Homo sapiens: one gene and its partners. The protein of the gene in region 2 purifies or fractionates together with the protein of the main gene of each other region. This does not show direct contact. Each region holds a gene or a part of one and is shown on either strand. Other genes may lie near its edges. The genes, in order: USP47, INPP5K and GART.

Region 1 (3,748 bases), on a different chromosome or scaffold from region 2:
TAAATCTAATGTTGGGTTTTCTTAAAGCAGAGTTCCACCTATATGATATTTTTCTAATGGTCAAAAAATTAAGAAAGAATTTTGTTTTTTATAAAAATGAAAACCAGCAATATGAAGCTCTAAAATGAAATACACATTTATACCTTTCTTACAGCACCTATCACTTCCTTCCTTGCATAAGAATTACTTACGTGGTAAAGTACCTAGTCCCTAATTGGAGTTCAACAAACACTAGTGTTCCCTTTCTTAGTAGCTCAGAAAGTTCCCAAGGCAAGAATTCTGATTAACTCATCTGTTTATCTGCTTTGCACAGAGTTGGTGACGCTTGATGAACAAATACTGACACATAACTCTCTGCCTTTTACAAAAATCGTCCTTGCAAAACAACTATCACTGCCCTTCTGACAAAGCTGGGAAAATACTTGTATCATACAGGTACATAACTCCAATAATATCACCCTTGCATACTGTCAGAGCTTGCTTAAGTAACAAAGAATTGCTACAAAACAAGTAAAACAGGCACAAAAAAATTTAAGAATCTGTAATGATCACTCATTAATTTCAAGATCGCACACAGTTAATTTCAATCCAACACTTGTCTCTATTTAAGGTATATGAGAAATAAAAATCCAAAGCATTAGCCTGATGATCAGCCAGTTAAAAATACACATTTGAATACGCCGAAGATATTTATAAAGCCAACAGAGATACTATTAATACGTTGAAATTCGCTGGCCAGTGCTGGATTCTACCCTAAATCTTCTACTACTATTCAAGAGAAGCCAAGTAGTCAAGGCTTCTCGTATCACTTGCTTTTAAGAATTTAAGAAGTCACTCAAATTGGCATACACAACCCAACCTCAAAAAAAAAAAAAAAAAAAAAGAGTTCAGCTCTCCATGTGGTAATGTTCTCCTATCTCCTTCCTTTACATTAATGTCCCATGTACTACTTTTCCACGATCTTCGGTAGGCCCCATTTAGGCAGGCCAATAGTACTACCAAGTAACAGGAGTTGAAAAAAGTCGTAACAGTTAAGTCTGCCCTCCCACAGATCTCACTTGGGTGTAGATTTCACAAGCGCTGAAAGCTATACGCTGCCACTGTCAAACCCAGAAGCAGCACCGTCACCCTGCCGTGCCCATAGGCAACTGTTCCAGAATGTTTTCTTTGAAATGATCTCTCCCGGCTCCACACGTTAAACAAGAACTTAAAAGGCCACCTTCTCCCCTAGAGCAGAACCTGATTCTTTCCCGTCCGCTCCTTTATTCGTCCAGCCCCATAAAACCCGAGGCGGGAGGTCCGCTCCCCGGCCCCTAGAGCCAGCGGGTCTCCCAACTGCTCGCCGCACCCACCGTCCACCCCCGACTGCCTCACGCCTCCTCATTCCCCCACAGCCGAGCCTGCACCCCGGCCGGGCCCGCAGCCGAACCCCGGCCCGGGCCTGTGTTGCCTCGAGCGGCCGCAGGCCTAAGGCCTAACCTCCTCTGGGGCCCCTCACCTCTTTCGGGACCAGTTGGTTCTCCTCGCCGGGCACCATCGCTGACTCCGGCCGCTCCTCTCCGCCCTGCCGGGGGAGGGTGGAGGGTGGCGGCGGCTCGCTAGCTCAAGAGAGAATGGCAGCGGCAGTCATCCTCTCCGCCGCCTGCGCTCCAGCAATAGCGGAGGCCTCAGCCTGGGCCTCAGACACCAGCGCGCAGACACCGACCCAGGGCTCCGCCGCCGCCGCCGCCGCTACCACAGCCGCCTTCGTCGTCGGCCCCTCCCCCAGCCCGCTGCAATCAATGGAAAAATGGCGGCGGCCGCTCTCGCGAGAATTCGGCCCGTCGGGCTCCAAGCCCGGCGCCTGGCGTCGGAGGTGGCCGGCACTTGTCGCTAGCTTCTAGTCACCTCGGCTCTTCCTCAGCCCCGGGAGGTACAGAATTGGCGAGACAGCCATGCAAACGCTTTTCGTTAGAGGAGAGCTGGACGTTCCATCTCGGGACTCCCTCTGCCGGCCGGGGAAGGACCAGGCCCACTGTCCTCCCTGCCTTCTCGGGCTCTTCGGACTCTCTGCCCTGCAGGGAAAGACTCGAGCCGAAAGCCCCATCTCTGACCCTAGCAACTCATACCCTTCTGGCTTCCCTTTAGCAAAGCGCCTGGACGTCATCCCCTCTTCAGATACCCCAGGCCTCGTCCTGGTAGAGACACCACCGCGGGCCACCTCCCGGCCCCCGCCCTTAGACACGGCTCTGGCCCTTCCAGTCAGAATGGACAGCGTTTTATTTGCTCCCGTTCACTCTCCTGACGTTCTTTTCCCCTCTCCCCACCCTCCCTCTCAAGGGCCCCCAGCTGGAGGGACCTCAGGGGCCACCCCCTGCTTGGGGAGGCAGCCACCCCTTCCCTTATGAAGCGGTGTCCTCACCGCCCGCCCCCCGCAACTACATTGGAGAGGCGCTCCCCTGCCCTCTTCCAGGGAACTTCCTTCTCCATCAGGGCCAAGTCTGAGACTGAGCTAGCCTTCCAAGAGTAGAGCTGCAGTATGCTTCAACCTGTGATCTCCGTTAACAAGGTTTTTAGAGAATTTTAATCTTCTCTAGTAGTAAGCATGGTGCTTTGTGTTATACTAAACAAAGTTTGCAGAAGTCATTTCTCCAAATCCTGCTTCCATTATGGAGACTCGGCGGGGCTCCTTCATGAAGACTTTTATGGATACAGTGATCTTACAGCATGCTGAGATAATATAATCTTGTCATGTTCCTAACACCCACAGCATTAACTGCCTGCACTTGTGTTCTCCAAACTTTTTTTTATTGTAATCCCGTTACCAAAAAAAAATCCATATACTTATATAAGTTTTATACGTGTCCTGCTGTGTGCAGAATTATAAAACATTTGTAAAATGTAAAAAGGCTAAGACAAAGATGACATAAACATTTAAAATAACTTAGTTATTTTCCATATTAATGGTATAAAAATCTTTGTTATTCTCACTAAAAATATTTAAGGAAATCAATATGATTGACTAGGTTTCGTTAGTTTTAAAAATCTTTAATACTTCGTGAAATAGTTATTAAAATATCTGATTGAACGTCAGGTTATTTTTGTACTTGGTTTTAATGGCTGTCATAAGCTGAAAAAAAGGTAACTCACAAAGATGTAGATCCTAAAGGAGGAAGTACATCTTTGGCCACTCTTCCTAATGCATGTTTAGAACGATTTAAAAAAAAAAACTGATATGAAAAAAGTTTCATTTTTATCCATTCCATCCAACAACCATGCAAAGGTTTTTATTGAAATTCAGCTAGTAGTGTTCCATCTTTCCTGATGTCAACCAGAAGATGTTGCATTTTTATATTTTTACAAATGGGTTCAAAGCTCTTTGGAATAAATTGCTTAGAAGATTTTTAAGAAGTTGAAAATTTCTATCTTCAAGTTTTAAGTATTCATGTATGAGTTTTGGGAGTTATAGATCTTGTCTTTAAGGTTTTGATATTTTGATTATCATGGATTGATTAAGATAAATTTTGACTTTTTAAAATATTGTATTAAGATTAGTTGTCTTGATTATTGAATTTTTGGCACCCCCCCCTTAAATTTTGTGCCCAAGGTGAACGGTTTTCACCTTGAAAACCATTTGCTTCACCATAGTCCCAGACTTGGGTGGCTCACATATATCATTTTTGCATCAAAATCACATGATGGAAATATTTCCAAACTTTTATTTTCAAAATGTCATCCCATGACTTAGTAAGGTGTCTTCTGTAGTGCT
Region 2 (3,748 bases):
GGGTCAGCAACGGCAAAGGGGGCTGGAGATCAGCAGGCAGGGGAGGGAGACCTCATGGCCATCAGAACTCAGGCCTTGAAAGTCCGTGAAGATGGTATCAAATATCTGTGGCAGGGGAAGTAGCCTGGAGGCCAGGGGCCAAGCCTCTGAGCTGGCATGGTCAGTTTGCAGGAATTGAACTCTGGGATCATAAGCCTCCTTTCCGATGCTGCCTTTAATGACTCGTGGAGCAGTTTCCTCATGGATGTGCTTTCCCCTCTGAGCTTCATCAAGGTAACTTGCCAGTTCATTGGCACTTGACAACTGTGTTTTCACATCTCCACTGACCCCTGCTTGTTGGGTCTGATGTGTTCCTCTTACTCCTGCTCAGCCTTTCATGCTGTTTCCCATTTGTTTAAAGGGCTAAACCTCCCTTCCACCTGGACCCCGGGGCCCCTGCCTGCCTTCGCCTTTCTGAGGGAGCTGGAGTCTCCAGGGGTTGGGTTAACACCTGGATATGTTTCAGCTTGGGAAGATTCTGAGGGGAGGTGCAGCAGGGCTTGTCATCACCTCAGTGCTGGCCGCTGCCCCAGCCACCAGTCTCTACTCAAATGCCCATCCTGAAGTCTCTGAGTGTAATCATACGGCTGTCATTTATCAAGTGCTTACTTGTTGTTACACATCATAAGTAGCTCTTTATAGTATATATGTTATTTTAAAATCTTAACAAGTCTGTTGAAATAGAGATATTTTACAGAGAAAACCATGGCTCAGAAGCCACATGCGCTATCTGGGATTTGGATCCAGATCTCTCAAACTTCATAACCCAAGTTCTTAACTACTAATACCTTATTGCTATGCTGGTGAACTCTAAGACTGACAGATCTTAGGCGTGGCTAGCCTGCTGGTGTCATAGGGTATCCTCAGGTCATACGGGACGTGCACTTCAGATTCTGGGGGTCCAGAGGTTAGGAGAGGGGAGTCAGGTGTGGTGGGTACTTTGGGCGGCTTTCTTAGTCTGAGAGACCAGTATACTCTGGGGTGTCTTTAGACAGTAGGAGAGTCCACAGGAAGGCCCTGGGTTGCCAGATCTTCACCTTCACCTTGGTTCTGCCCTGCACACCTGAGGAATGAAACACACTCCCATTCACAGCACCTGGTATACAGCTGCTTAGAAATACCAGAATTCCCTCTTTCCCCTTCCTGGATGACTCTTGTTCTTCAGAATGGATTCTGTCAGCCTAGTTTGCCTGGGGGTACTGAGGCAAGAGCTGTGTGTCCTTTGGAGGGGGAGCAGAATGGGGAGGAAAGAATCTAAGGTTTAGAACTCCTGCTGAGGATAGAAAACACCAGCCCGAGTCCTTGGTTCCCTCCACATCAAACCCAGAGGCCTCCTTCTGTAGATAGGGAGCTAGATCCTTACAGAGGACACAACCACTTCTCTCTCACCCGCCACTCCCTTCCCAAGACTGCAGGCCTCCTTGCTTCTCGGCTGACTGGCAAAGGATTGGTAGGATGGAATTGAGCCAAGGAAATTAGCTCAACTTGTGGCAGAGACACAGCCCTTTCTACCCATGTGGCCTACTGAGATTGGGAGGCCAGACTGAGGGCCTGGCACCCAAAATGAATGCCCTTCTTTCCCCAGCCAAGAATCAGGGTGGATGGGTGAGCTCCGTGCATTTGCCAGCTATAGACTGAGAAGGGCTGACCCCCTTCCACTGCTCCAGGGCCCCCAGCCACCTCCTGCTAGTCCTTTCTTCGCTCCTCCTACTTCATTTCCTCCAACTAGAACTTTCCCTAGAACTCTCCTGCTTTTCCCACAGCCCCACCCTTTCTCCCAGTCTAACTCTGTCCTGCCCCGACCCCACCCTCCCCGCCCCCACTTCCCTGCTGCTCCTTCACAAAGCGAGCCAGTGTCTTTGTGGTGGAACCCAGTGGCCTAAAGCTGCTTTGTGGGTGGGGATTAAGCCTGAAACTTTTCCTGAGTCTTTATCAGTCCCCTTGCTTCAATCCTGACCCTGGGAGTCAGCCCCTCATGGTCCAGCCCGTCCTCCATCCCTGTTGGCACGTGTGCTTGGGTGTAGGAGAGAGAAGACTGGGGAGGAAGTAGGCTTGAGGACACACCTGTAGCAACCTCTGGCCCACCTGAAGTTCTGATGCCTCCCTTACCCAGTGCTGGGTTTGAGGTTCCCCCTGCTTCGACTCCGCTATGCCAGGGCTCGTGGCCTGCAGGATCAAGTTTCATAATTCCTGGAAGGCCCCAGTACACGCTCCCCACCCGGGGATTTCCTCCTTGGCCTCCACACTTCATTCTCCGGAAACGGCTCCTCGGGTGCCGGTGGTAGACAGCCTGAACCTGAGAGGGAGAGCTACTGGCTGCGGCCCATTCCCACCCCACCTTTTGCAGCTGCAGATAGTAGGGATCTTGGCAGTCCTAGCCCTTTGATGTTGTTTTACAATACAGGTAGCCCTACTGGTTCCTTAGCCTCCCTAAATCTTAGTTCCTCAACTACAAAACAGGGACGGTGATTCCTTACAGGCTTGGCAGGAGTAAATGAGAGAGGAGGCACTTGAGCAGATGTTAGCTATTCTCCCTAGCCTGTGCACATGTGTCCTTACCCACTGGCATTCCATGGGCGTTGCCTTCATGGACACCCAGCTGCACGCAGTATATAGTTATGGGGTTTGGGGGGAGCATTTTCTTATTTTTTTTTCACTGAGCTATAATGTACACAGAAAAGCATGCAGAAATTCAGTGTACACTTTGATGGGTTTTTGCATATACCCATGTTACCATCAGCCACATCTAGATAAAGAGCAGGCCGAGTACAGTGGCTCATGCCTGTAATCCCAGCACTTTGGGATTATAGAGGCAGGGAGATTGCTTGAACCCAGGAGTTCAAGACCACCCTGGGCAATATGGCAAGACCCTGTCTCTACAAAACAAACAAAAATAGCCGGGCATGTTGGTGCACACCTGTGGTCCTAGCTACTCAGGAGGCTGAGGTGGGAGGATTGCCTGAGCCCAGGATGTCAAGGCTGCAGCGAGCCGTGATTGCACCACTGCACTCCAGCCTGGTAGACAGAGCGAAATCCTGTCTCTAAGTAAAAAGGGAGGAATGGGGGCAGCTGGTGGATAAAGAACATTTCCAAGGAGAGAGGGAGGAAGGGAAGGGGATAAAGAAGAGCATTTCCCAGTATCCTGGAAACCTCTTATGTTCCTTCCTTTTAAGAATGCTTGGCCGGGCGCGGTGGCTCACGCCTACAATCCCAGCACTTTGAGAGGCCAAGGCAGGCAGATCACCTGAGGTCGAGAGTTCAAGACCAGCCTGGCCAACACGGTGAAACCCCATCTCTACTAAAAATACAAGACCTGGTGGTGGGCGCCTGTAATCCCAGCTACTTGGGAAGCTGAGACAGGAGAATCACCTGAACCCAGGAGGTGGAGGTTGCAGTGAGCCGAGACCACGCCATTGCACTCCAGCCTGGGCGACAGAGCGAGACTCCGTCTCAAAAAAAAAAGAATGCTGAAACCAAAAAATAATAGCTTTCAGATAATCCCCACAGCATCTATGAGATGGATTCCTACTTTATCAATGAGAAAATACACTGAGAAACTGCCTCAATGTCAAATACTAAGAATCAGAGCCAGGGTTTGAACCCAGATCTAACTTCAAAGCCAGTATCCTTAGCTTATCTTCTCTTCCCGCCACCCGCACGCCTAGGCGCAGAATCGAAAACCTCAGCCCCCAGAATGTATCATTTGGCA
Region 3 (3,748 bases), on a different chromosome or scaffold from region 2:
GGCCATAGTTTGCTGACTCCTAATTCAAATAGCGCAATATGCTAGAATATTGGTAGAGAAGGCAAAAATCAAATTCCAACTCATTTCACTTTAGTTCTGGCACCTGAGACTTAGAAGGATGGATACAACAGCAGTGTAACCTAGGAGATTAACTGAAATGACATTTATAAATAAGTACAATCTGGCACTCAGCAGTAGTAAATGTTAACTTGTTACATTTACTTACCACAAGACAAACTGGTAACAGGAAAAAGAAAATTGAAAACTTATTTTGATGATGTTGGGATTACATATTTTAAGAAAAATGTAAGCTGACAATATACAAAACTAACATTTTTTTGAGCACTTAACCTTGGGCAGGGTACTATTTAAAATGCTTGTCATGAAAGAATCCTATGAGGGAGATACTATTACTATCACCAATTTGCAGATAAGACAAGGAGGCCCAGATAGGTAAATAACTTGCTGGAGGTCACACAGGTAAGAGGGGGTGGAGCCTAACAGAAGCAATTTTGCTTCAGATTCTCTCAACAAGTGAAACGATGATCATTGAAAATTTGAGAAAGGAAAAAAAAAAACCCTGTTAAATTACAGTCTCGGAAGGAACAGCTACTTTAGTGTAACGGGAAAACACATTTTACTTGCCATGTGTATCTGAAATAAACAGATTTTTTATTTTATTTATTTATTTATTTGTTTAGACAGTCTCTCTCTGTCGCCCAGGCTGGAGGGCAGTGGTGTGATCTCAGCTCACTACAACCTCCGCCTCCCGGGTTCAAGCGATTCTCTTGCCTCACAGCCTCCCAAGTAGCTGGGATTACGGGCGTGCGCCGCCACGCCAGGCGAATTTTTGTATTTTTAGTAGCGACGGGGTTTCACTACGTTGGCCAGGCTGGTCTCGAACTCCTGACCTCCAATGGTCAACCCACCTTGGCCTCCCAAGTGCTGGGATTACATCACATCCGGCCAGAAATAAACAGATCTTTAAATCTAGAGCAAATGTTACATCTTTAGTTTGAATATAGCAGTAGTGTGGGAAAATTCTGTTTACTCTAGTGGATCACTGAAAATAGCCTTACTACCCAGTGGTGAGGACGCCTGGGCTCCTGAGTCTCACACAGCGCCTTGGCCTGGGTAGAGACGCTGCCCCATACTAGCAGGAAGACCTTGGGGGACTTCACTAACCTTGGGCCTCATTCCTCAGAATGGGTAACATAAGCAGAATAAGACAGGCAAATAAAGCCGTATCAGAGGATATGGAGAATAAAGTAGAAACCAACTACAAAATTAACCAAGTAATCTGCCAGAGACAACGGGTGCATAAAGAGAAAGTACACCAATTTAGGGTTATGTCCTAAAAATGTATAAAGACACAAAAAGGCCTTGACATCTTAGAAAACAGGAAAAGTAAAAGAGCAAATAGAAACCAGCTAACAGTAGCAAGTGAAAAGCACATGGCCAACCCCCACCCACCGCATTTACAAACAACAGGAAAATTTCTACAAATCAGTTTCTATGGTTTCACTCAGTTCGCGATCTTAAATCCCCAAACCAAAGCCTAAGCGCGCTCCGTGTAAAAGCGGAGGGGGTTTACGCACCGACACCGGGTGGCCACCTGGTTCCCGCTTGCCCGCTCGCCGGAAGTCGGCCCACCGGGACCGGCGCGGGACCAGCGCGGCACCGCCCCTCACTGCCCCGCCCTACGACGGCTTCCCTGCCCCATTGGTCCGCGCGGCCCTGGGTCTCCGCGGCGAGAATCTAGTCTGATTCCCTCCCGCCCTGGGCGCTGCCTGACTGCTCCCCAGCCGAGACACCCAAGCCTTAGCACGTTTATAATGTGACAGTGGTACGGGGTGCCACGCAGTGTTTCCAGGAGCGCCGGGGGGGAGCGCCAAAATGCTAAACCCATTCTTAGCCAATTGTGCGCCGCTCACGAGTCAGAGCTGAGCAGCTACCGCGGAAAAATCTCGTGACACGCCTGACTCCTGATGAGACTAAAATGCACCGGGCTTTGAATGCCGGTCGCTTAGGACATCCGGCCTATTGCTAAAAAAAAAAATGAGGCTGGTTATAGAACGCACTGGGGAAGACACAGGGCAACAGCGAGTTCCTCCTCTCACATGCCAGTGGGGGCGGGGGCTGAAAAATTCTCTCCCGGATGCATATCCCTGTCGAAACTGAACTTGGCGCCACCTGAGAGCGCCTGAAAGCCGTGTGTTAAACACCGGGTTGCCCTTCTTGCTCTTCTTCCTCTTCGCCTTTAATCTCAGGCACTTAGCAAGCCTGTTAAGGCTCCCAAACACTGCTGGGGACTGACAACTTATGCGGACACGGTCGCCTCAAGAGAGACGGCTCCTGTAATGGCGCCTGCGTCAGACACTAACATGGCGGACATAGTCGTGCGCGGCGCAAACGTCAGCACCTCTACCCCAGCCGCTCAGAAACAGCAGAGGAGAGCAGGGCCGTGCTCACTGATTGGTCCCTCGGTGGAGCGGGCCGGACCGGGCATTCCCTTTGGAGCCAATCAGGAAGGCGAGAGACCGAATTGGCCCGTGCGCCTCCTCCCGAGGCATGCTGGGAGCCTGGAGGACTAGCGAGGAGGAGTTGAGAGAACGGAGCGGACGCCATGGCGACCAACATCGAGCAGATTTTTAGGTCTTTCGTGGTCAGTAAATTCCGGGAAATTCAACAGGAGCTTTCCAGGTAAACGCCTCCCAGATTCTTCTGCTCCCAACGGACCGTTAGGCCCTCACCTAGCCTTCTTTGGCACCTTTCTTCGGAGACGCAGTCGTTCCCCGGCTCAGGCCCCGCTAGGGCCCCGCCTGGGCCTGGGATCCATTTTCCGGGCCCCCCCCAACCGCCCCCCCAGCCGCTCCCTTCCTTTTCCCTCGAGGAACTTCGCCTTTTCCGAGGTAACCCAAGACTCCCTGTTTCAGAACCGAGTTAAGATGTTCACCCTTCTCCCCTGTTTGGGTCCCCCCTGCCGTTTAGCTACTCGTAGGCCCGGTTGTCCGCCAGGGACGGGCCTAGTTCCTTCCTCAGCTCCTCCTCCGCCGCCGCGTATCCCCTCCCCCTCTCGCCTCCGCGGATTTTGCCGGCCGGTGCCTATGACCGGAAAGGGTCTCTAACGGCCGTTTCTTGGTTAATCTTAAATCCTCTTTATTATTGCGAGCTTCAGACCGCTTGGGGGTCTGGATCTATTAATAAGATTATTCGGGGCCTAGTGTCCTGTAGTATCTGTCAGCCGTTCTGATAGTTAAATGTTTCAATTAAAACGAACTCAAACTGATGCACTTGCTAGTTTGTTAAAATACTCGAGATAAAGATGGAAGGGGACTTTGAAATGGTTGCGATTAATTACAGCAAGTGAAAGTGGACTTTGTGTGTAGGTCTATTATTTTCTTGCTACCCCTGCCCCAGTTGACACGCTATTTTTGTCATTGCTGGTAGACTTTACATAATTTGCGCTTGGCTTCACAAAATTTGAAGGCGAAGAGATTGTTAAAGAAATGGTTGTTTACTTAGGAAAATAGTGTGTCATGTTCAGCGGTTGTCTCTCGATATTTGCTTTTGTATAAGATACTCATTTCTTTAAAGTACAGAAGTAGGAAAGAGATCTTGAAACGTAAGTGTTCCGAGTTCAAGTGTTTTTAATTGTATTTTAAAAGTTGAGAGCAAGAGCAGTACGTGAATTTGAAAATGGGCCGAAAACCAGTTGTAAGTGCCCAAAGTAATACAGGATTATTAG

What was found.
Region 1: the proteins of INPP5K (region 2) and USP47 purify together in Homo sapiens (co-immunoprecipitation; 3 studies listed by BioGRID and IntAct, with this or other methods). This does not show direct contact.
Region 3: the proteins of INPP5K (region 2) and GART purify together in Homo sapiens (co-immunoprecipitation; 4 studies listed by BioGRID and IntAct, with this or other methods). This does not show direct contact.

The regions. Positions count from the first base shown.
Region 1 is NC_000011.10:11,839,975-11,843,722, reverse strand, and holds the start of USP47 (ubiquitin carboxyl-terminal hydrolase 47), read right to left. Parts: upstream 1,752-3,748; 5' UTR 1,538-1,751; coding exon 1,499-1,537; intron 1-1,498. UniProt on the Homo sapiens protein: Ubiquitin-specific protease that specifically deubiquitinates monoubiquitinated DNA polymerase beta (POLB), stabilizing POLB thereby playing a role in base-excision repair (BER). Acts as a regulator of cell growth and genome integrity.
Region 2 is NC_000017.11:1,509,978-1,513,725, reverse strand, and holds part of INPP5K (inositol polyphosphate 5-phosphatase K), read left to right. Parts: intron 1-164; coding exon 165-273; intron 274-3,748. UniProt on the Homo sapiens protein: Inositol 5-phosphatase which acts on inositol 1,4,5-trisphosphate, inositol 1,3,4,5-tetrakisphosphate, phosphatidylinositol 4,5-bisphosphate and phosphatidylinositol 3,4,5-trisphosphate.
Region 3 is NC_000021.9:33,540,467-33,544,214, forward strand, and holds the start of GART (trifunctional purine biosynthetic protein adenosine-3), read right to left. Parts: upstream 1,652-3,748; 5' UTR 1,599-1,651; intron 1-1,598. Other genes in the region: protein SON, read left to right, coding at 2,627-2,703. UniProt on the Homo sapiens protein: Trifunctional enzyme that catalyzes three distinct reactions as part of the 'de novo' inosine monophosphate biosynthetic pathway.